Homo sapiens: one gene and its partners. The protein of the gene in region 1 interacts with the protein of each later gene in a pairwise test. Each region holds a gene or a part of one and is shown in the gene's direction. Other genes may lie near its edges.

What was found.
Region 2: the proteins of MYBPC2 (region 1) and PCDH12 interact in a two-hybrid assay, tested with the Homo sapiens proteins (one large-scale study listed by BioGRID and IntAct).
Region 3: the proteins of MYBPC2 (region 1) and COL12A1 interact in a two-hybrid assay, tested with the Homo sapiens proteins (one large-scale study listed by BioGRID and IntAct).
Region 4: the proteins of MYBPC2 (region 1) and MYOM2 interact in a two-hybrid assay, tested with the Homo sapiens proteins (one large-scale study listed by BioGRID and IntAct).
Region 5: the proteins of MYBPC2 (region 1) and DYSF interact in a two-hybrid assay, tested with the Homo sapiens proteins (one large-scale study listed by BioGRID and IntAct).
Region 6: the proteins of MYBPC2 (region 1) and MYH8 interact in a two-hybrid assay, tested with the Homo sapiens proteins (one large-scale study listed by BioGRID and IntAct).

Annotation. Positions count from the first base shown.
Region 1 is NC_000019.10:50,439,392-50,442,891, forward strand, and holds part of MYBPC2 (myosin-binding protein C, fast-type), read left to right. Parts: intron 1-1,488; coding exon 1,489-1,685; intron 1,686-2,789; coding exon 2,790-2,922; intron 2,923-3,500. UniProt on the Homo sapiens protein: Thick filament-associated protein located in the crossbridge region of vertebrate striated muscle a bands. In vitro it binds MHC, F-actin and native thin filaments, and modifies the activity of actin-activated myosin ATPase.
Region 2 is NC_000005.10:141,955,403-141,959,453, reverse strand, and holds the start of PCDH12 (protocadherin-12 precursor), read left to right. Parts: upstream 1-1,251; 5' UTR 1,252-1,602; coding exon 1,603-4,051. UniProt on the Homo sapiens protein: Cellular adhesion molecule that may play an important role in cell-cell interactions at interendothelial junctions. Acts as a regulator of cell migration, probably via increasing cell-cell adhesion.
Region 3 is NC_000006.12:75,122,554-75,126,053, reverse strand, and holds part of COL12A1 (collagen alpha-1(XII) chain long), read left to right. Parts: intron 1-780; coding exon 781-927; intron 928-1,682; coding exon 1,683-1,799; intron 1,800-1,959; coding exon 1,960-2,106; intron 2,107-2,649; coding exon 2,650-2,724; intron 2,725-3,500. UniProt on the Homo sapiens protein: Type XII collagen interacts with type I collagen-containing fibrils, the COL1 domain could be associated with the surface of the fibrils, and the COL2 and NC3 domains may be localized in the perifibrillar matrix.
Region 4 is NC_000008.11:2,048,046-2,051,545, forward strand, and holds part of MYOM2 (myomesin-2), read left to right. Parts: intron 1-2,709; 5' UTR 2,710-2,721; coding exon 2,722-2,828; intron 2,829-3,500. UniProt on the Homo sapiens protein: Major component of the vertebrate myofibrillar M band. Binds myosin, titin, and light meromyosin. This binding is dose dependent.
Region 5 is NC_000002.12:71,679,699-71,683,198, forward strand, and holds part of DYSF (dysferlin), read left to right. Parts: intron 1-1,302; coding exon 1,303-1,412; intron 1,413-2,831; coding exon 2,832-2,979; intron 2,980-3,500. UniProt on the Homo sapiens protein: Key calcium ion sensor involved in the Ca(2+)-triggered synaptic vesicle-plasma membrane fusion.
Region 6 is NC_000017.11:10,390,951-10,394,450, reverse strand, and holds part of MYH8 (myosin-8), read left to right. Parts: coding exon 1-202; intron 203-1,240; coding exon 1,241-1,366; intron 1,367-1,449; coding exon 1,450-1,620; intron 1,621-1,804; coding exon 1,805-1,909; intron 1,910-2,473; coding exon 2,474-2,569; intron 2,570-3,500. UniProt on the Homo sapiens protein: Muscle contraction.

The DNA of each region.
Region 1 (3,500 bases):
ATATTCATGTCCCCACATTCACCTCCACATCTATCCTCTCTTTGTTCCTTTCCCTTCCTTCCTTCCCTCCCAAGCTCCATCCATGCATTCACTCACTCTCTCACCCATCAACCATCTTCTGAGGCCTCCCGTCTACTAGGTCCTGGGCTGAGATCCATGCATTCACTCACTCTCTCACCCATCAACCATCTTCTGAGGCCTCCCGTCTACTAGGTCCTGGGCTGAGATCCATGCATTCACTCACTCTCTCACCCATCAACCATCTTCTGAGGCCTCCCGTCTACTAGGTCCTGGGCTGAGATCCAGGGAGAGAGAACAGTCTGACTGGGTCCCTGATGTGAGATCACTCATTGCCTTGGGAAATGGGTCTTGTCCAACAGACATAGATACAGACTGAGACTATTTGGTGTGATTTTAGAGAGGGTCCCACCGGGGCCTGTGAGAGCCCAGAGCACGAGCAACTCACTGTCTTGTAGGACACGGAATGCCTCAGGGAGAAGGGAACTTTGGTGCTAGGTCTTGTAGGATGAAGAGGAGTCTGGGAGGAAGAGAAGGTAGGGAGAGGTCATGAAGGTAGGGAAACATTTTGTGCAAAGGCTGGGAAGCAGGAGAGAGCCTGAAGTGTTCAGCAAAAGTCAAGCAGCTTGGTTCAGGTGACTTTGGGGGGAGTGACGGAAGTAGCTGGGGTGTGATGGCCAGGCGGAGGGCTGGGGCTTCCTCCTGAGGGCAGTGGGGAGCCACAGAAGAGTTCTGAACATGAAAGGGAGAACCACTGATGTGGGTGTCAGAAATACCCCACAGGATAAAAGAGGACAAATAGGGTGCAATGTATGCTGCTTGGGTGATGGGTGTACCAAAATCTCACAAATCACTACCAAACAGCTTACTCATGTAACCAAACACCACCTGTTTCCCAATAACCTGTGGAAATAAAATAAATAAATAAATAAATAAATAAATAAATAAATAAATGAAAAGAAATACTCTGCGGACCAGGCATGGTGGCTCACACCTGTAATCCCAGCACTTTGGGAGGCTGAGGCGGGTGGATCACTTAAGGTCAGGAATTCGAGACCAGCCTGTCCAACATGGCAAAACCCTGTTTCTACTAAAATACAAAAATTAGCCAGGGGTGGTGGCGTGAGCCTGTAGTCCCAGCTACTCGGGAGGCTGAGGCAGAAGAATCGCCTGAACCCAGGAGGTGGAGGTTGTAGTGAGCCGAGATCACGCCACTGCACTCCAGCCTGGGAGACAGAGTGAGAATCTGTCTCAAAAAAAAAAAAAACCAAAAAACCCAGTGGGGACTGTGCTGGGAAGAGGTCAGAAGACCCCAGGAGGAGGCTGGGGCAATGGACCAGGCGGGAAACAATAAGACCCCTAAAGGGAAGGTGGCTTGGGTGAGTCACAGAGCCAATGAGTGAAGAAGGCAGAGGGACATCCTCCCTTCCTCACTCCCTGATGGCCCCTGTCCGTTCCCCCACCCGCCAGGGAGGTGGTGGAGGAGGAGAAGAAGAAGAAAAAGAAAGATGACGATGACCTAGGCATCCCCCCGGAGATTTGGGAGCTCCTGAAAGGGGCAAAGAAGAGCGAGTACGAGAAAATCGCCTTCCAGTATGGCATCACCGACCTCCGGGGCATGCTGAAGCGGCTGAAAAAGGCTAAGGTCGAGGTCAAGAAGAGTGCAGGTCAGCCCTGGTCTGGGGGGAGCTGGGCCCTGCACACAAGGGACCCCTAGCCTTGTGGGTGTCTAATGATTGGACCCTGGACCTATCTTTTCGAGGTCCCAATGAGGTAGGAGGCAAGACCCAACTCTAGCGGTGGGCCTCGGACACCAGACCAAATTGAGGACTAGCTAAAACAGGGACAGGGTGGAAGCAGCTTTCCATAAGACATGCCCACCAGTGTGCCATGTCAGTTTACCATGGCCATGGCAACAGCCAGGAGTTACTGCCCCTTTCCATGGCAATGACCAGACCACCCAAAAGTTACCACCCTTTTCCTAGCAATTTCTGTATAACCTGCTCCTTAATCTCTAGGTAATTAAAAGTGGGTATCAATCTGACTGCAGATCTGCCCTGAGCCGTTGCTCTCTGTCTCTGGGGTAGCCCTGTTCCGCAGGAGCAGTCAGAGGGCTGTAACACTGCCACCTCAATAAAGCTGTTTTCAGGCTGGGTGCAGTGGCTCACGCCTGTAATCTCAGCACTTTGGGAGGCTGAGGTGCGCAGATCACCTGACGTCAGGAGTTCGAGACCAGCCTGGCTAACATGGTGAAACCCCATCTCTACTAAAAATACAAAAGTCAGCCGGGCATGGTGGTGTGCACCTGTAATCCCAGCAACTTGGGAGGCTGAGGCAGGAGAATCGCTTAAGCCAGGGAGGCAGAGGTTGTGGTGAGCTGAGATTACGCTGTGGCACTCCAGCCTGGGGAACAGAGTGAGACTCTGTCTCAAAAAAATAAAATAAAATAAAAAATAAAATAAAATAAAATAAAATAAAATAAATAAATAAAAATAAAGCTGTTTTCTTCTACCTAACACTGGCTTGCCCTTGACTTCTTTCCTGGGTGAAGCCGATAACCCTTGCAGGCTAAGCCCCACTTTGGGGTCCCCTGCCCTGCATCACCACCAGAGAAGTTCTCAAGGATCTCTAAGTTCATAGGAGGCCCCCTGACTTCCTCACTTTGACCTTGGAGAGCCCAGGGCCTGGGGAGGGAGATGTGGTGCCTCTGGGGATGACCAGGGGAATGAGGACCACACGCCTCCATCCCCTTTGCATGCCTCAATCTTCAGCATTCACAAAGAAGCTGGATCCAGCCTACCAAGTGGACAGAGGCAACAAGATCAAGTTGATGGTAGAGATCAGCGACCCAGACCTGACCCTCAAGTGGTTCAAGAACGGCCAGGAGATCAAACCAAGCAGCAAGTATGTGTGGGGTGGGCAGTCCCTGCACCGGGGAGATCCCCGTCCAGAGAGAACGCCCGGAGACAAGGCCTATCACTCTTAACCAGAAAGGGCATATTCACCCCTATATGAAGAGTACAGGCCGGGCACAGTGGCTCACGCCTGTAATCCTAGCACTTTGGGAGGCCGAGGCGGGTGGATCACCTAAGGTCAGGGGTTCGAGACCAGCCTGGCTAACATGGTGAAACCCCATTTCTACTAAAAATACAAAAAATTAGCCGGGTGTGGTGGCACATGTCTGTAGTGCCTGTAATCCCAGCTACTTGGGAGGCTGAGGCAGGAGGATCGCTTGAACCCAGGAGGCAAGAGGTTGCGGTTGCGGTGAGCTGAGATCTCGCCACTGCACTCCAGCCTGGGCGACAGAGTGAGACCCTGTTAACAACAACAACAACAAACACATCACAAGACAACCTTTTTTAAATTAATTACCTAATTTTGTTTTGAGACAGAGTTTCGCTCTTGTTGCCCAGGCTGGAGTGCAATGGCATGATCTCAGTTCACTGCAACCTCTGCCTCCCAGGTTCAAGAGATTCTCCTGC
Region 2 (4,051 bases), on another chromosome or scaffold:
GAGAATGTTGGGGGCAGCAAACTGAAGGGCACAATAAGAAGCAATAAGGCCACCTCAAAGCCCACCCAAGCAAACTGCTCATTCACCTCCTTCCTTCCTGAATTTCACCTTATGAGGAGGTGAGTGGAAGATAGGGTATCCCTTAAAACATCTAAAAGGAGAGTTGGGGGCAGCAAAGGAGATGTGCTTCACGGGACTCTTATAAACAAAACTGGGGAGAGAAGAATTGGAGGAAGGGGGAAAGACATAGATGAAAGGGAGGGGAAGGTGTGGGAGAGGGAAACGTATAAAAGCTTCCAAGAGGAGTGGGAGGCTGGGGGTTCCCCAGACAGAGACTCAGTCTGGACCAGATGCAGAGAACAATGGACTTCAAGGCTGGAGGGGGGCAGAAGGGAAGCGGGAGGAGAGCCACACGGTCAAGTTGCACAGGTTCTTGCAGCTTCTGGAATCAAGACCATGGGCACCCTCATAAGTCAGTGTGGGCAGGGACTGCCCCAGGGCCAATCCAAGATCCAGAGGTAGCCATAGGGTGTGACAAGTTGTGCAGATTACAACACTCACCCCTTGCAATAACGTCACTGCCTGTGACTCGGGGCCAGGCCCAGGCCAAAGCCCTTCCTACATCATTTCGTTTAATCCTCACAGTTTCCTGCTGAAAGGGCTACTATTCTTACTCCCATCCCCACTCTACAGATGAGGTAATGGAGGCCCAGGAAAGTTAAGTGACTTGTCCCAGATGACACCGCTGGTAAGTTGCAAAGTCAGAATTTGAACTCAGGCAGTTTACCTCTGATGGCTGCTCTGTTAATCACAGCTGCTTTCCAGTGAGACAAAAACGGGTGATCAGGGCAGAGTCAAGACAGAGAGGTAAACAAGATTGGGAAAAAGACAGGAATGAGAGGGGAACAATGGGGGAAAAGATAGGAACAAAGAGAGTTGGGGAAGGGGAGAGAAACAGGAAACATGACTTGCCCGGGAGGGGCATCAGTCCACGTGCAAGCAGGTGGAGGCTCAAGTTTTCTGCTCACTTGGTGATGCAGAGGCTCCCTTTCCCTCAGCAGCCGCCTTGCTGCGTGGACAGCAGCTTCCCATCTGGCCTGTCCCCGGAGCCCCGGCCTCATCCTCCTCAGCGGCAGGCCACTTAGCTTCACAGGAAATGCTCTTTCTCTAATTGGCATTGAAACTCACAGCCCTCCCTTTTCCTGTAGGTGGGGTTTCCATAGGAAAAAGCTGCTTCTCTGTTTCCCCAGCCTAGCAACTGTTTGGCAGTCAGAGTCCCACATCCTGCTCAACTGGGTCAGGTCCCTCTTAGACCAGCTCTTGTCCATCATTTGCTGAAGTGGACCAACTAGTTCCCCAGTAGGGGGTCTCCCCTGGCAATTCTTGATCGGCGTTTGGACATCTCAGATCGCTTCCAATGAAGATGGCCTTGCCTTGGGGTCCTGCTTGTTTCATAATCATCTAACTATGGGACAAGGTTGTGCCGGCAGCTCTGGGGGAAGGAGCACGGGGCTGATCAAGCCATCCAGGAAACACTGGAGGACTTGTCCAGCCTTGAAAGAACTCTAGTGGTTTCTGAATCTAGCCCACTTGGCGGTAAGCATGATGCAACTTCTGCAACTTCTGCTGGGGCTTTTGGGGCCAGGTGGCTACTTATTTCTTTTAGGGGATTGTCAGGAGGTGACCACTCTCACGGTGAAATACCAAGTGTCAGAGGAAGTGCCATCTGGTACAGTGATCGGGAAGCTGTCCCAGGAACTGGGCCGGGAGGAGAGGCGGAGGCAAGCTGGGGCTGCCTTCCAGGTGTTGCAGCTGCCTCAGGCGCTCCCCATTCAGGTGGACTCTGAGGAAGGCTTGCTCAGCACAGGCAGGCGGCTGGATCGAGAGCAGCTGTGCCGACAGTGGGATCCCTGCCTGGTTTCCTTTGATGTGCTTGCCACAGGGGATTTGGCTCTGATCCATGTGGAGATCCAAGTGCTGGACATCAATGACCACCAGCCACGGTTTCCCAAAGGCGAGCAGGAGCTGGAAATCTCTGAGAGCGCCTCTCTGCGAACCCGGATCCCCCTGGACAGAGCTCTTGACCCAGACACAGGCCCTAACACCCTGCACACCTACACTCTGTCTCCCAGTGAGCACTTTGCCTTGGATGTCATTGTGGGCCCTGATGAGACCAAACATGCAGAACTCATAGTGGTGAAGGAGCTGGACAGGGAAATCCATTCATTTTTTGATCTGGTGTTAACTGCCTATGACAATGGGAACCCCCCCAAGTCAGGTACCAGCTTGGTCAAGGTCAACGTCTTGGACTCCAATGACAATAGCCCTGCGTTTGCTGAGAGTTCACTGGCACTGGAAATCCAAGAAGATGCTGCACCTGGTACGCTTCTCATAAAACTGACCGCCACAGACCCTGACCAAGGCCCCAATGGGGAGGTGGAGTTCTTCCTCAGTAAGCACATGCCTCCAGAGGTGCTGGACACCTTCAGTATTGATGCCAAGACAGGCCAGGTCATTCTGCGTCGACCTCTAGACTATGAAAAGAACCCTGCCTACGAGGTGGATGTTCAGGCAAGGGACCTGGGTCCCAATCCTATCCCAGCCCATTGCAAAGTTCTCATCAAGGTTCTGGATGTCAATGACAACATCCCAAGCATCCACGTCACATGGGCCTCCCAGCCATCACTGGTGTCAGAAGCTCTTCCCAAGGACAGTTTTATTGCTCTTGTCATGGCAGATGACTTGGATTCAGGACACAATGGTTTGGTCCACTGCTGGCTGAGCCAAGAGCTGGGCCACTTCAGGCTGAAAAGAACTAATGGCAACACATACATGTTGCTAACCAATGCCACACTGGACAGAGAGCAGTGGCCCAAATATACCCTCACTCTGTTAGCCCAAGACCAAGGACTCCAGCCCTTATCAGCCAAGAAACAGCTCAGCATTCAGATCAGTGACATCAACGACAATGCACCTGTGTTTGAGAAAAGCAGGTATGAAGTCTCCACGCGGGAAAACAACTTACCCTCTCTTCACCTCATTACCATCAAGGCTCATGATGCAGACTTGGGCATTAATGGAAAAGTCTCATACCGCATCCAGGACTCCCCAGTTGCTCACTTAGTAGCTATTGACTCCAACACAGGAGAGGTCACTGCTCAGAGGTCACTGAACTATGAAGAGATGGCCGGCTTTGAGTTCCAGGTGATCGCAGAGGACAGCGGGCAACCCATGCTTGCATCCAGTGTCTCTGTGTGGGTCAGCCTCTTGGATGCCAATGATAATGCCCCAGAGGTGGTCCAGCCTGTGCTCAGCGATGGAAAAGCCAGCCTCTCCGTGCTTGTGAATGCCTCCACAGGCCACCTGCTGGTGCCCATCGAGACTCCCAATGGCTTGGGCCCAGCGGGCACTGACACACCTCCACTGGCCACTCACAGCTCCCGGCCATTCCTTTTGACAACCATTGTGGCAAGAGATGCAGACTCGGGGGCAAATGGAGAGCCCCTCTACAGCATCCGCAGTGGAAATGAAGCCCACCTCTTCATCCTCAACCCTCATACGGGGCAGCTGTTCGTCAATGTCACCAATGCCAGCAGCCTCATTGGGAGTGAGTGGGAGCTGGAGATAGTAGTAGAGGACCAGGGAAGCCCCCCCTTACAGACCCGAGCCCTGTTGAGGGTCATGTTTGTCACCAGTGTGGACCACCTGAGGGACTCAGCCCGCAAGCCTGGGGCCTTGAGCATGTCGATGCTGACGGTGATCTGCCTGGCTGTACTGTTGGGCATCTTCGGGTTGATCCTGGCTTTGTTCATGTCCATCTGCCGGACAGAAAAGAAGGACAACAGGGCCTACAACTGTCGGGAGGCCGAGTCCACCTACCGCCAGCAGCCCAAGAGGCCCCAGAAACACATTCAGAAGGCAGACATCCACCTCGTGCCTGTGCTCAGGGGTCAGGCAGGTGAGCCTTGTGAAGTCGGGCAGTCCCACAAAGATGTGGACAAGGAGGCGATGATGGAAGCAGGCTGGGACCCCTGCCTGCAGGCCCCCTTCC
Region 3 (3,500 bases), on another chromosome or scaffold:
ATAATGCATATTACATCAATATACCTATGTATTTTTCCCACTATGCCCAGGTATTATTTTATTTTGGGCATAGATTCCATGCAGCTTATTCATGACAGCCTTGCTTTCAAATCCCCTCTGAAAATTTCACCTAAATTAGTATCACCTTGATTAAATTATTTGTTATTTTTGTTTTAATATTTTGTCTGTATTCTTAGAGAAACTGGAAGAAAAATGCAGATTTCTTAGGGCATCTTCCATATATCCAGTAAGAGTATGAACTAGAAAAAACATGAAAGAGAGATGGCAAGATAAAGGAAGTAAAATTTGAACCTATGTAAGAAATAGAAAGAGAACTTAAAAAAGAAAGTGGGGTTGGTAACTAAGGAGTTTAGCAGCCAAAGTATGTGGAATGAGGTCCAAGATAGAAATTCTTAAATTATCTCTACAATAAATGAAAAAGTGTCAGTTGGACACCTACTATATGCAAAACACTATGTTGGCAAAATAGGGCTTGAGAAAGAAGCTTGAGAATTCATTCACTAAAGAAACATTGATTATATACCTACTATATTCCAAATACTGTGCTATGCTTTGAGAATAGGAGGGTGAAGGATTCAGTGTCTGCTTACAGTTTCATATTTGTCATATAACATAGCATGTGCCCCAGTGAGTAAGTGTATGAGGACTATGGAATTAATCGTGTTCATAATACCCTTTGACTATAAGATCTTTAATTTTAAGCAAAATTTCATGCTATTGATGGCATGTTTCTGTGTATTTTTGTGGTTGTTAATAAAGGTTCCAATGAGCCCATGGAAGCCTTTGTTGGAGAAATGACATCATATACCTTACACAATCTCAATCCCAGCACCACCTACGATGTGAATGTTTATGCTCAATATGATTCTGGACTCAGTGTCCCCTTGACAGATCAAGGCACTACATGTGAGTCATGGATATTTTCATGGTTGTGAGAAAAACTGTAGTAGAAATTACCAGGTCAGCCTGTTTTAATTTCCTGTTTCTGAACATATACATGTTTCCTCAGCATTATGTAGGCAGGCTATTTTGTGTCTGGTTAGACAAAATACCTATTCAAATACATAAATATTATAATTGAGTATATAAAAATATATATGGTGAGAAATTTGTGTATTTCACATAAAATATTATACTTTGAATTTTAAAAGATAAAAATTATAGAAATTGTCATTTTATCCATGAATGACCTGTAAAATTAGATCTGTGATGCTACTTAGTTCTTCTTGACATTTGATACCAAGATATATATTACCTAAATTCATTGATTTAATTTGACTTAATTATTGAATCATGATTAGTGTGATTCAGTCCACAGATATATTTTAAGGTCACCATTGCTTTGATAACTATTTAACGACTTAGCAGATAGCCTTTTAGAAATTGTTTTCATTATTTTCCATGAGATGTTTTTGAAATTCTTAGTTTTGAGAGGGACTATATGGAATTTCCTTTCCTTGAAAATCAGCGAAAGAAAGGGGGGTCTATTTTGGCAGTACCACATTTTTAAATATGATTCATGTATGTTTCTTATAAGGAAACATAATACAATTTTGAACTTTTTTTTAGCCACAGTGAAAGTTTGAAAATTGTGTTATGATTAAAAGTACACTTTTTGCCTCAATTTACAAAGTAAATCTCTTTCTTTCTTTATTTTGTAGTATATTTAAATGTAACAGATCTGAAAACTTACCAGATTGGGTGGGATACATTCTGTGTCAAATGGTCACCTCACCGGGCAGCCACCTCCTACAGGCTAAAACTAAGCCCTGCAGATGGTATGTGTGTAAAAAAGAAAAAAATGATCTGGAGCATGTAGTGGAAACATTTTAAATTTCAGTAAAGAAGATGCCATTTTGTTTATAACAATGCGATATAAAATTTTCTTGAAATATAATTGGTGATGACACTGGCATTTTCCTTTGTTGTCATAATCAGGAACAAGGGGACAAGAAATTACAGTGCGTGGATCAGAAACCAGTCACTGCTTCACTGGCCTTTCACCAGACACTGATTATGGTGTCACTGTTTTTGTGCAGACACCAAATCTCGAGGGACCAGGAGTCTCTGTTAAAGAACATACCAGTAAGTTTTTGAGGAATCTGGAAAGCTTTCATAAGGCTTTAGAATAGAATGCTCTAGGTAAGGAAGACTTAAGTGAATCCTGTGCAGGTACCTCTCCGTAGGGGTAGCAATAATGATGGGATGATGGCAGATTCCTGAATGTGGAGTCTAAAGCTGGTTCAGGACCTTTTTCTGTAGCAATTTGCAAGTTGTCCCTGTTATTGAGTTGGTGCTACTTTGAGGAAGGGCTAAAGGAGGGAGAGATGGCTCTCGCTGAGAAGGTGAATTCATATTAGTGACTTTTACTCATTTGACCCTATCTGAAGGCCTTACATTTTCCCTTTAGATCTTTATTTTCTGTAGCTGTAGTGGATGTTGAATGACTACCAGTGACATCAATTTGGATGGAATAAAATCCCCAGCATGTCAGTACCGATGACAATGGTGTCTCATTTTGTACGACTTGATTTGGTATCCAGGATTTAAATTGCTCTTAAAATTTACTTTCTGGGATATCAAATGTGCACATGGTGTGTTTTTATAATTATTATTTTTAAATTTTAGCTGTGAAACCAACAGAAGCCCCTACAGAGCCACCCACACCTCCTCCCCCTCCCACCATTCCACCAGCCCGGGATGGTAAGTACAGCTAAATAGGCAATACGTTCAGCTGATAGGGAGTTACAGACTTCTTATTTACGCTGCATGTGCATCATTTACAATTAATATAGAACATTTCTGATCTATTATTGCTGCTGAAGAGTTTTTAGATTGAAAGAAAAGATAACCAGTAATTTGTTTCTCTCCATCTCTGGGCACATTTTGGTGTGAATAAAATCAGTCATAAATTATTCCAGATCTTCAGCTGGAAGTCTGTTTCCTCAGTTTTACAGATTTAGGTCTTCCATGGTCCATAGTTACATGGTGGACATTTCTTTCTGCTAGCTGCTGGCATCAGTAAGCGCTGTGAACCCTTTTGGCTATATTTGCGACCGAAGCCCTGAGGCTGTTGGCTTTAAAATTCCTGGTGTCCAACCTGAGAAGTTCCCTGGATTATACAATGCTAAAAAATTTTCCATTCACCAAAATTTGAAAGATAATTGTAACTTGCAGTGAACTGGTGAAACGACATACTGATTTATTAAGGTTGATCTCTCAGCATTTGAGGGCAATTCTCTAGCACTTTGTCAAATTAAATTTAGTTAAATAACTACTGTATTATTCTTTTCTCATATGCTGTTTCCAGCATTTAATAGAAAGCATTTCAGATATTTTTATTTTATCTTAGAAGGATGTCGAACGTTACAACTTCGTTAAACCTATTATATAAGTAAAATTAAAAATTAAAAGTGTATTATTGTGGGGTAAAATAATAATGGATTCCTTTAAATTAGATACAGAAAGAAATTCAGTAA
Region 4 (3,500 bases), on another chromosome or scaffold:
AGCTCATTCTCTCCTTTGACCTAATAGGTCACATTTTGACTCTTCCCTTTACCAAGAAATACAAACACATCTGAGGTTTAACTCAACATAAGTGTAAGTAGATACTGTGATGACACATGAGCCCCTGCTGCAATAGCAGGTACTGGGGATTGCTCATGCGTCTGCTGGAGTGGAATTGCCTGGTATTCGTCAGGCTGATCCCAGAAGAACCTTGGATAGGAAACCGGATGGAAGCTGAAACGTCTTCCCCAACCTTGGTCCAACTTCATTTCAGTGAGCTCTTCCCAGCACCCTGCTGGTGAACTCCAGAGAGAGTAAATGGGTTTCTGAGCAGGAAGCGTTTCTTGAAGATCCACCTTGATTAACTCATTGGAAAATCCCAGTGAGCTGCATCTGGGGAGATTTCAAATAGTGAAGCAATACATAGATTTTCTCAGATACCTTTTCCTGTCTGCAGAATTCTTGAACCATGATAACAGCAGCAGCATAACAGAGACAGCAACCGATTTCGGTACCAGGGCCAGGGCCAGGCATGATGCAGATTCAATATGGAACGCCAGAGCTAGAGGAGCTAGAAGCTACCCCAGGCCTCATCAGAATGCTGGAGTCAGAATTCGATCCCAGGTCTACCAGACATCAAAACCTGGGCGCTTGACCTCTGCACTATGATACTGCCTTCAATATCAGGGCGGGTGGAGGAGATATGCTTTTATTTATTTATTTATTTATTTTATTTTTTATTTTTATTTTATTTTTTTTTTTGAGATGGAGTCTCGCTCTGTCACCCAGGCTGGAATGCAGTGGCGCGATCTCGGCTCACTGCAAGCTCCGCCTCCCAGGTTCACGCCATTCTCCTGCCTCAGCCTCCCGAGTAGCTGGGACTACAGGGGACCCCCACCATTCTGGCTAATTTTTTGTATTTTTTTTAGTAGAGACGGGGTTTCACCATCTTAGCCAGGGTAGTCTCAATCTCCTGACCTCGTGATCCACCCGCCTTGGCCTCCCAAAGTGCTGGGTTTACAGGTGTGAGCTACTGCGCCCGGCTGCTTTTATTGTGTTCTATGAGGTGCAACGTTCCGTTATATCCCTGGAGTAGAATGCATGCTGGTGCACTCTAAAACACGGCTGGGCCCTCCCAGGGTGGGGTGGTTGGTCGACTAGTTGGGTTTTAAGAGGCAATATTGAGAGAGTTAGTGTGGCAGTGTGAAAGGCCCAGAATAAGGATGGCCTTGGGGCAGGGGTAGCCTCTTCTACATGCTTTTGGGGAAGAATTTCTCCTTTCTGGCCCTCGTGTCCTGTTTTCTTCCCTGTAGAATAGGAGTTTGGGTAATCGCTAGTGATCTTTCCAAGTTCTACAATACTGTGATTCTCGGAGATTACAGAGTTCAAAGGAAACAGCTCATAAGGAGCAATTTATGTACTGTGGTAGGTTTTCTAGCACGTACCCTGGAGATCTGAACTATGACAAATTCATCTCCGAGCAGCCCTTGGCATTTTCCACCCAAGTCTCATACCCATGGCCCGGGATGTGGGTGGCACCCCTGGGGCTGTGCCATGGGGCCTGGCCTAGGAGTTCTGTCTTTAAATAAGGACAGATCCTCGTCATTTAAACAGAAAAGTAAAAAATGGAGCTCAGGTTGTGAGTCCTTTTGCACCTTGTTTGGGAAATTAATGACTGCAGAGATTTAGGAATACGGTCCCTACGTAACTTTGCCGTGATGATCAAGTCACTCAGCACGTTGGCATTTTACGTGTTTTGGGTGAACATGTACAGCAGATTGCCATGTCTAATACCTGTAATGCTGCAAGTTCCCAGAGAAAAAGATGGAACTCGCTCATCTCCTGTTTGGGGAGAATTTCATCCACACTCTCGAATTTCCCCACATCCCTGAGGCTTTCATGCCAGGCTCTGTCCTCACTTTTCCTGCTCACCTCCTGCTACGCCTGTCTACCGTAACCAGTGAGACTTCAGACGGCAGATTCCAGGGGGCATCTCCAGCCAGTCCCTTTTTCCACATCCCCCTTTGCATGGTGGAGAGACTGCCCGTTCCCCAGGCAGACACCCGCCACCTCCGCTTGTGGCTGCGTCTTTCCAGAGTGATTTCTGGTCACACCCACCCCTGCAAGTCTCCCATGATCCTGGATTCTCCTGCCCGACCTTTGCTTATGGGCTGCCCTCCTTTCCCACCTCCGCCTGGCAGTCCCACCTGTCCACCGAGCCTCCTCTCAAATGTCACCTGCCTCGTGGGCCACTCGGCCGTCCTGGCCTCCTGCCATTCCCAGGACACCTTCTACCTGCCCCGGGCTCTTGGCTCTTATCGTATGTTCTCTTGTATTCTAAGTGTTTGTTTACTTCTCTAATCTGCTTTAATTATTTTTGTACTTCCCACTTATATTGCTTTGAACTTTGCCCTGAACACACCAGGGGTTCTAGGAATACTTGTTGAGTTCACAATGAAATGAAACAGCAGCCCAATCTTCCAACTGTTGTGGAAGAAAACAAAAAATAAAGTTGGGTCCCTGGGAAGTTAATAGGCTTCCTGACTGCTGGTCTAAGGTGATTTCTGGCCATGTAATCTTTCATTTTTTCCCTTCCCAAGGGGGTTTTATTAACTGGAGTTCATTTTCCCCTTTGGAATGATGCAGAAATGGCAGAGGCCTCATGATGCTTGCGAGGGAGCTCAGTGTTGTGTGTGACTCTCTTTGTAGGAGCACGCCAAGATGTCCCTTGTGACTGTCCCCTTCTACCAGAAGAGACATAGGCACTTCGACCAGTCCTACCGTAATATTCAAACACGGTACCTGCTGGACGAATATGCGTCAAAAAAGTAAGCTGACATTCGCTGATGAGACGCGCAGAGCTTTGATTATGGGGGTCTGACATTTAAAGGCTTTTCCAGTTCCGTCAGCCCTGGAGAGGCACTGGTTTGCAGGGAGTCAGAGAGCAGAGATGGCAGCCTCTCCCGTGCCCAGGTCCTGCCACGGAGCAGCACTCTGTGGAGCTGGCGTAGTGTTCTGGCAGGTCCTGCTGGCCGAGTTCAGCTCCTGATCGAGGTGGGGAGGCAGGAAGTCCTTTGTATGAGCTCGTTGATTTTACTGCTCATCACATGCCTTCCAGAACTAGGATCTAAAAAGCCACCCAAAATAAAAAGCAATGAGATTGAAACTGGTGGGAAAGGCTGTCGGTAGGAGAGAAGTTAATGGGTGGCAGAGTAAAGACAGAATGGGAGGCAATATTAGTGATTTGGCTACATCGATCATGGATGTGCCGAGATCAAGAATCCCTGCCTCTGGGGCTGGTGTGCACCTGCATCTTCCGGAAGCTTCTCGGGGATGGCCTCATACAGGATGGCAGCTCACGCCCCCATGGACACTGTTTGTGTAGCAGCAAATCTGCAATCTTAATGGGCTGATTGGAAGGCTGTGGTGAAGGGAGGGAGGGACCGCGGGCAGGCGTTCTGCAGCCCAGGTGCCTGCCTCATGTCACCCACACCCTATGT
Region 5 (3,500 bases), on another chromosome or scaffold:
AGGAAGTTAATCCCTGAAAGTTTACTTAGAAATTTCAGGCAGCCAGCCAACCCTGAAAGTGGTCCTTGAAATTGAATATACTTGTTATATAAAGAGTGGTAACAATAAGAAATACTAGTACCCCAAAGGAAAAATGAGAAAACGACATGCATAGCTAATTCACAAAATAATTACCAATGTCTGCAAAGCATTTTTAAAAAGGTTTAGTCTCTCCAGTAATTAAATAAAGGGATACAGTAGTCCCCCCCTTATCTGGAGGAGATATGTTCCAAGACCCCCAGGGGATGCCTGAAACTACAGATAGTACTAAACCCGTATTATGTACTGTGTTTATTCCCATCTATACATATCTATGAGAAAGTTTAATTTCTAAATGAGGCACAGTAAGAGATTAACAACAATAACTAATAATAGAACAATTATAACAATATATTGTTATAAAAGTTAGGTGAATGTGGTCTTTCTCTCTGTGTGTCAAAATATCTTACTGTACTGCCCACGGGTAGCTGAAACCCTAGAAATCAAACCCAAAGATAAGGGAGGACTACTGTATTTTTAAATGTGTTTTTTTTGTCTGTTAAATTATATATATTTTTAAAACAGAAATGCTCATTGCTGCTGAGCATGCAGAGAGAAGACAGGCCCCCCTTTTACTTCTGCTGGGAGCACTAATGGTTTTACTGTGTGGAGGAAGAAATTTGATAACATATAGTAACAGATTTAACAATATTTATGCCCTCGGACTCTGTCATCCGACTTCTAAAATCCTTCTAAATAAATAACCCAATAAATTTTAAAAGTCTAGGTTCTGGGATATTTGTTGCAGCATTATTTACCCTATCAAAGAGTTGGAAACAACCTAAATGAACCAAAATAAGTAGTTTACTAAATAATTATGGTCAACCATCCCATACAATGTTTGGCAGTCATTAAAAACCGAACTTTAAAGAATAGACAACTACATAGTGAAATATATTCCGAAGTGAAAAAAGCCATCTATGGAACTGTATATGCACAGTGTGACATTTCATAAGCTTGCAGAGAAAATCAGCTATGATGCATGCAAATGTTAACAGTGCTTGTCTCCATGTAGTGGAAGTAGGGGTGGCAGTCTCCCTTCTTTATACATTTCTGAAGTTTCCAAATGTTTTACAAAGAGCAGGTGCTGCTTTTATGTTCAGAAACCCTACATCTTTTTTTTTAAATAATGAAGTGGCCCTTATGTTTTTTCTGGCCTGGTTACTCTCCAGGCCACTGAGCAGAGCCTTCGTGCCCCTAACCAAGTGCTCTCTGTCCCCTCAGGGCAAGCTGGAAATGACCTTGGAGATTGTAGCAGAGAGTGAGCATGAGGAGCGGCCTGCTGGCCAGGGCCGGGATGAGCCCAACATGAACCCTAAGCTTGAGGACCCAAGGTCAGTGCCCAGCCCCTGAGCCCCAATGCCCACAGGTCTGGGGGTATAGGCCACAGTCCAGGAGGCATCCCATTGCATGGCCATGTAGAAGTCACAAAGCCCACGTGGCTCAGAGAGGGGCACGACTCATCCAAGGCCACACAGTAAGTTAGGGGGAAGGTGATGGGCATCTGTCCAGAGAACACTGGGCTCAGCGAATTCAAGATGCAGGTGCTATTGGGTACCTGTTGGTTGTGTGCCAAGCATGCTATCCTATGCATGTGTACATTGTGCTATGGAACCTTCCCTGCAGGGTAGTTGTTATTATCCCCATTTTACAGATGAGGAACAATCTCAGCAAAGTTAAATAAGGGCATTCCAGCTAGGACAGTGGTGAAGCAGAAATGCTCTCACCTGGTCTGATTGGCTCCAGAGCCCGATCAAGGTCTTGACCCTACCAAGCTGCCTTCGGTGGCTCTCCTATGGTGCCAGTGTGACTTTCAAATGGTTTTTCAGCCTTCATTTTTCCATCTGTGAAATGGGGAGCCCAATCCCTGTCTTCCCTACATCACAGACCTCTTGGGGAGATAGACCAAGCCAATGGATGTAGATGCTGTGAAGGCAGTTACAGGGGCAGAGTCACTGAAAGATGGCTGTGGGGGCTCAGGAATGTGTTTGCTGGATCCCGCCCCACCAGCCTACTTGGCTCAAGTTGGATTTAGCATAGATGGCTCAGTTAGTCACCATGCTGTGATTAGCACCGTGTGCCTGAGTGCCATGGGGCTGGCAGAGCAGTGAGAGGCACCCTTGCCTAAGGATGCTGGGATCTGCACAGGAAGAAAAGAGAGACCCGTGAGACACCAGTGTGCAATCTGATGTTAACGGGGCCATGATGGAGACCCAGAATCCTCCACGTATTTTGAGATGTGGAGCTGGCCTAGGGAAAGGTTTTGAGATTCTTGGTTGTGAGAGAACCAGCTTCCTATGTTCTCTTCCCACCGTTGTTCCCTGAGCATGGACTAGCCATGTGCATCTGGGCAGGTGTCTTGGCTTATCTGGGGCTCGGTGGGCTGGAGAGCACTTTGAAGCACTGCCCAGCTCCTAAATCTGCAGTTTGTGATTAAGTCCTGGGTCAGGAATGGGTGAGGGCACCAAGGAAGGTGTCCTGGAGAGGATGGCAGAGAAACTGGGCCACTGAGGATGCTTAGGGCTTGGCAGCACCCAGAAGAGGAGGGCAGCACAGGTGGGGGTGATACTGTAGCAAGGGCTTGGGGGAGAGGGAATGCAAGGTGCAAAGGGCTAGTTTAGGGACAGGGCCTGGGCAGGCGCTGGGGGTGGACTGTGGAGGGCCAGGCCATTGGACCTGCTGTTGAGAGAAGAGTTTGGAGAAAGCAGCCCTAGTAAAGGATGCCCAGTTGACCTCCGGGATCTCGCTTCCAGGCGCCCCGACACCTCCTTCCTGTGGTTTACCTCCCCATACAAGACCATGAAGTTCATCCTGTGGCGGCGTTTCCGGTGGGCCATCATCCTCTTCATCATCCTCTTCATCCTGCTGCTGTTCCTGGCCATCTTCATCTACGCCTTCCCGGTGAGCAGGCCTGACGACACTGTGGTGGGGGAACTCTGGGTCTAATGGGGGAGTTCATCATTGTCCTCAAAGAGCTCTCCCAGTCTAATGGAGAGAAGTAACCTCTGTCCTTGGAGAGCCCCTGGTCTGATGAGGATACAGAGCCCAGCTCTGGGGAGTCTCCAATCTGGTAGGTGTACAAAGTTCTACCCTTGGAGGCTCTTAGTCCAGTGAGAGAAACTGAGTTCTTGCCCTTCATGGTGAGACAAAGCTGTCCTCAGCAAGCCCCTAGAATTTGTAATGAAGGGGTTAGGAGAAGATGAGGCCCTTTGGGTTGCGGTGGGCAGGGGGACTTTCTGGAAGGGAGGTGTGGAACTGGGTCTGAAAGGAAGGTGAGATGTTGATGGCAGAGCAGAGAAGGTCCCTTTGTCTTAACAGCAGTTGCAAATCCAGAGGAAGGGAGGAGCTGGGGCTGGGAGAGCATCTCAGGGTCCACCTGAGGCACTCAATAGAGTGTGTCCTGCCTCCTGCAGCAGGTGGGC
Region 6 (3,500 bases), on another chromosome or scaffold:
AACCCAGCTCCACCTGGATGATGCTCTCCGGGGCCAGGAGGACCTCAAGGAACAGCTGGCAATTGTGGAGCGCAGAGCCAACCTGCTGCAGGCTGAGATCGAGGAGCTGTGGGCCACTCTGGAACAGACAGAGAGAAGCAGGAAAATCGCCGAACAGGAGCTCCTGGATGCCAGTGAGCGTGTCCAGCTCCTCCACACCCAGGTGAGACCCTCACATCAAACAAATGCTGGTGTACTGGTAGCTGATGCATTCGAATTATAACATGAAAGTACTCAATTTGTATAAATATGTGTATGTAAACATGGATGGGGGATATGCTCAAAAATACTCATTGCTATTATCTTAGGGTAATTGGTGGATTATGGGTGATTTTTTTTTGTTTTTTTGGTGTGTGTTCCTGTTTCTTTCTTGGGGTTTCTACCCCTCACCAAAAAAAAAAAAAAAAAAAAAAAAAAAAAGCTATTACTTTTTTATTTAAAAATAAGATTTGGCTATTTAGATTATTTTGGAAACCATGAGGTAGAATACTATTGAGTAAAGATACCTGTTGCCTCCAAAATCTGAAAATGTTCCATGCAGTGTTTCTCATTGGTAGCACTTAAGCATTTAGCACTGCTGTGTTCACTGTCCCCATGCCTTACAGCTCATTTAGCATTCCTAACCTGCCCAGGCATTAAATGCAGTAGCACCCCCTAGTCATTTTGACAACCAAAAATATCTGCCCCTAAACATTTTCAAATACCTGTTGAGACGATATTGCTTCTCTCTAGAAACACTGAGTTGAAATCTTAAGAACATGTTTTCATAAGACAAATTCAGTGCTCTCCGACAGAACAAATCATAAAAATTCAGAGAGAATAGATTCTTTCAAAGCAAGAAACTCTCAGTGCCTGCCACTCACAAAACGAATCTATTCTTTTCTATTTCCAACCTTCCAGAGATAGAATAACTAGTGATGTCTGACTGAAATATAATTAAAAGAACAATTAACTAATGTATGCCAATAAAGGCATTCTCAAACCTCAGAAGTCCTTATGCATAAATCAGGTGGACACTGGGGAAGTTGGGGGAAAGGAGTTCCTACCTTGCAAATAATTAACATTTTCCACTGAACAAATAATTAAAGTTTAGTGAAATGTTGCCAGCAGATCCCCTGCACGAACCAACAAGTAAGACACTTGTAAAATCCCAAGAGGGCAAACTGCAAATTTTGTAAATTTCCACGACTACTTTTAACAGAATACCAGTCTCATTAACACCAAGAAGAAATTAGAAAATGACGTTTCCCAACTCCAAAGTGAAGTGGAAGAAGTAATCCAAGAATCACGCAATGCAGAAGAGAAAGCCAAGAAGGCCATCACTGATGTAAGATGAACATTTGGCCTACTGACACGTATGCACCTGCTATCATCAAGTTTCATTACTTTCTTAATTTATTTCCTAAATAGGCTGCCATGATGGCTGAGGAGCTGAAGAAGGAACAGGACACCAGCGCCCACCTGGAGCGGATGAAGAAGAACCTGGAGCAGACGGTGAAGGACCTGCAGCATCGTCTAGATGAGGCCGAGCAGCTGGCGCTGAAGGGTGGGAAGAAGCAGATCCAGAAACTGGAGGCCAGGGTGGGTGTCTCAATCTCTCTAAATCTGGGAAGGGAAAAAGGGCACTCTCTCTACCCTTCTCTCTTCCTACACAAGACTCCCATCCTGTCCTGGGGCTGGGAACACCCACCCCATGCCTTCAGTAGGTCTTGGGCTAATTAATATCCCCCAAGACTGACTGCGTAAGTATTTTTCTTGGCTGCAGGTACGTGAGCTTGAAGGAGAGGTTGAAAATGAACAGAAACGTAATGCAGAGGCTGTTAAAGGTTTACGGAAACATGAGCGACGAGTAAAAGAACTCACCTACCAGGTAAAGGGAATAGCCTTCCAGAATATCCACTCTTCCTGCCCAGAAGGAAATTGAAAACCTTATGACTATTTATTTATATGCCACTCACAAACAAATACGCATTAACTTGGTACATGTAAGGAGTAAAGACAGTTGCTTATCACAGACCTATACTAAAACTTAGGGAGGCCTTCAGATTTCTAAAGTTTAGAAAATAGCATGACAGTAAAGAACACAGATTTTAAAGGCAGATTAACTGGGTATTAGTCCTAGTTTGGCCTCTCTTGCTTCTTGAACTTAACACTCTAAACCTCAGTTTCTTCACCTGTAAAATAGAGATAACAGTGTCTATTTTCCCGGATGGGGAGGTAAGGACTGGAGAGGATGTGTGCAATTCTCTAATACAGTACCTGCACAGTGGAAACATTTACCAAGAGTGCTACTGTTAATTCTATGAAGAAAATCTCAGAGTTGATCAAGTTTACCCCAGGCCCACCTGCCATCATGCCAAATGATTTTATTTTAGTACCCAGAGTAGCCTTATCTCTTCGGAATGAATGCAGATTATTTTTTTCAAACTTTCAGACTGAAGAAGATCGCAAGAATGTTCTCAGGCTGCAGGACTTGGTAGATAAATTACAGGCGAAGGTGAAATCATACAAGAGACAAGCTGAGGAGGCTGTAAGTATCTTTAAGCCCTTGAGGAAAGAAGGAAATTTCTTTTGCAGTAGAAAGTGTTTTAAGAGAATGCGTCAATAAGGAAGAAGACAAAGTGAAAATCTACCACTCATTTTAAGAGGGATGATTTTATAAATATGAATTTGTCCCGCCAAATCCAAATTACAGAATAAGACTTCAAAAGATTTATTTATTTATTTATTTTGACACAGAGCCTCGCTGTGTCACCCAGGTTGGAGTGCAGTGGTGTGATCTTGGCTCACTGCAACCTCTGCCTCCCAAGCTCAAGTGATTCTTATGCCTCAGCCTCTCCAGTAGCTGGGACAACAGGCATGCACCACCACACCTGGCTGGTTTTTGTATTTTTAGTACAGACAGGGCTTCACCGTGTTGGCCAGGCTGGTCTCAAACTCCTGGCCTCAAGTGATCCACCCACCTCGGCCTCCCAAAGTGCTGGGATTACAGGCATGAGCCACCACGCCCAGCCGAGATATTTTTATTATTAAGCAATTTGTAAGGGTTGAGGGGGGCAAGTTCTAAACAGCTCACTTACTTGATAGCTACAAATGATATACAGTAGAAATTCTAATTAATACCATCATAAATATTCCTCTCCCTCTAGACATAGAAAAAATCAAGTTCTCAAAAGCCAAACATCAATCTTTTACCCCACCTGACTTCTTCACTCACCACTAGTGTCATCAGTGGGGGCTCTTGCCCCCACATTTGCTGTAGCTAATATAAGAACATGTTAGAAGATTCTGTACCTATACCCTTCCTGGTTATCCCTCCACTCTTCCAGACACATGTGATAGGTAGGAAGTAAATAGGAAGAAAAGGAAAGAAAAAAGGGAGAGGCATAAATGGCAATGAGTCAATTAACAGAGGAGACTTTCTGTCTAGTCCCATCTTTTCCCTTTCTTTATATACTAGA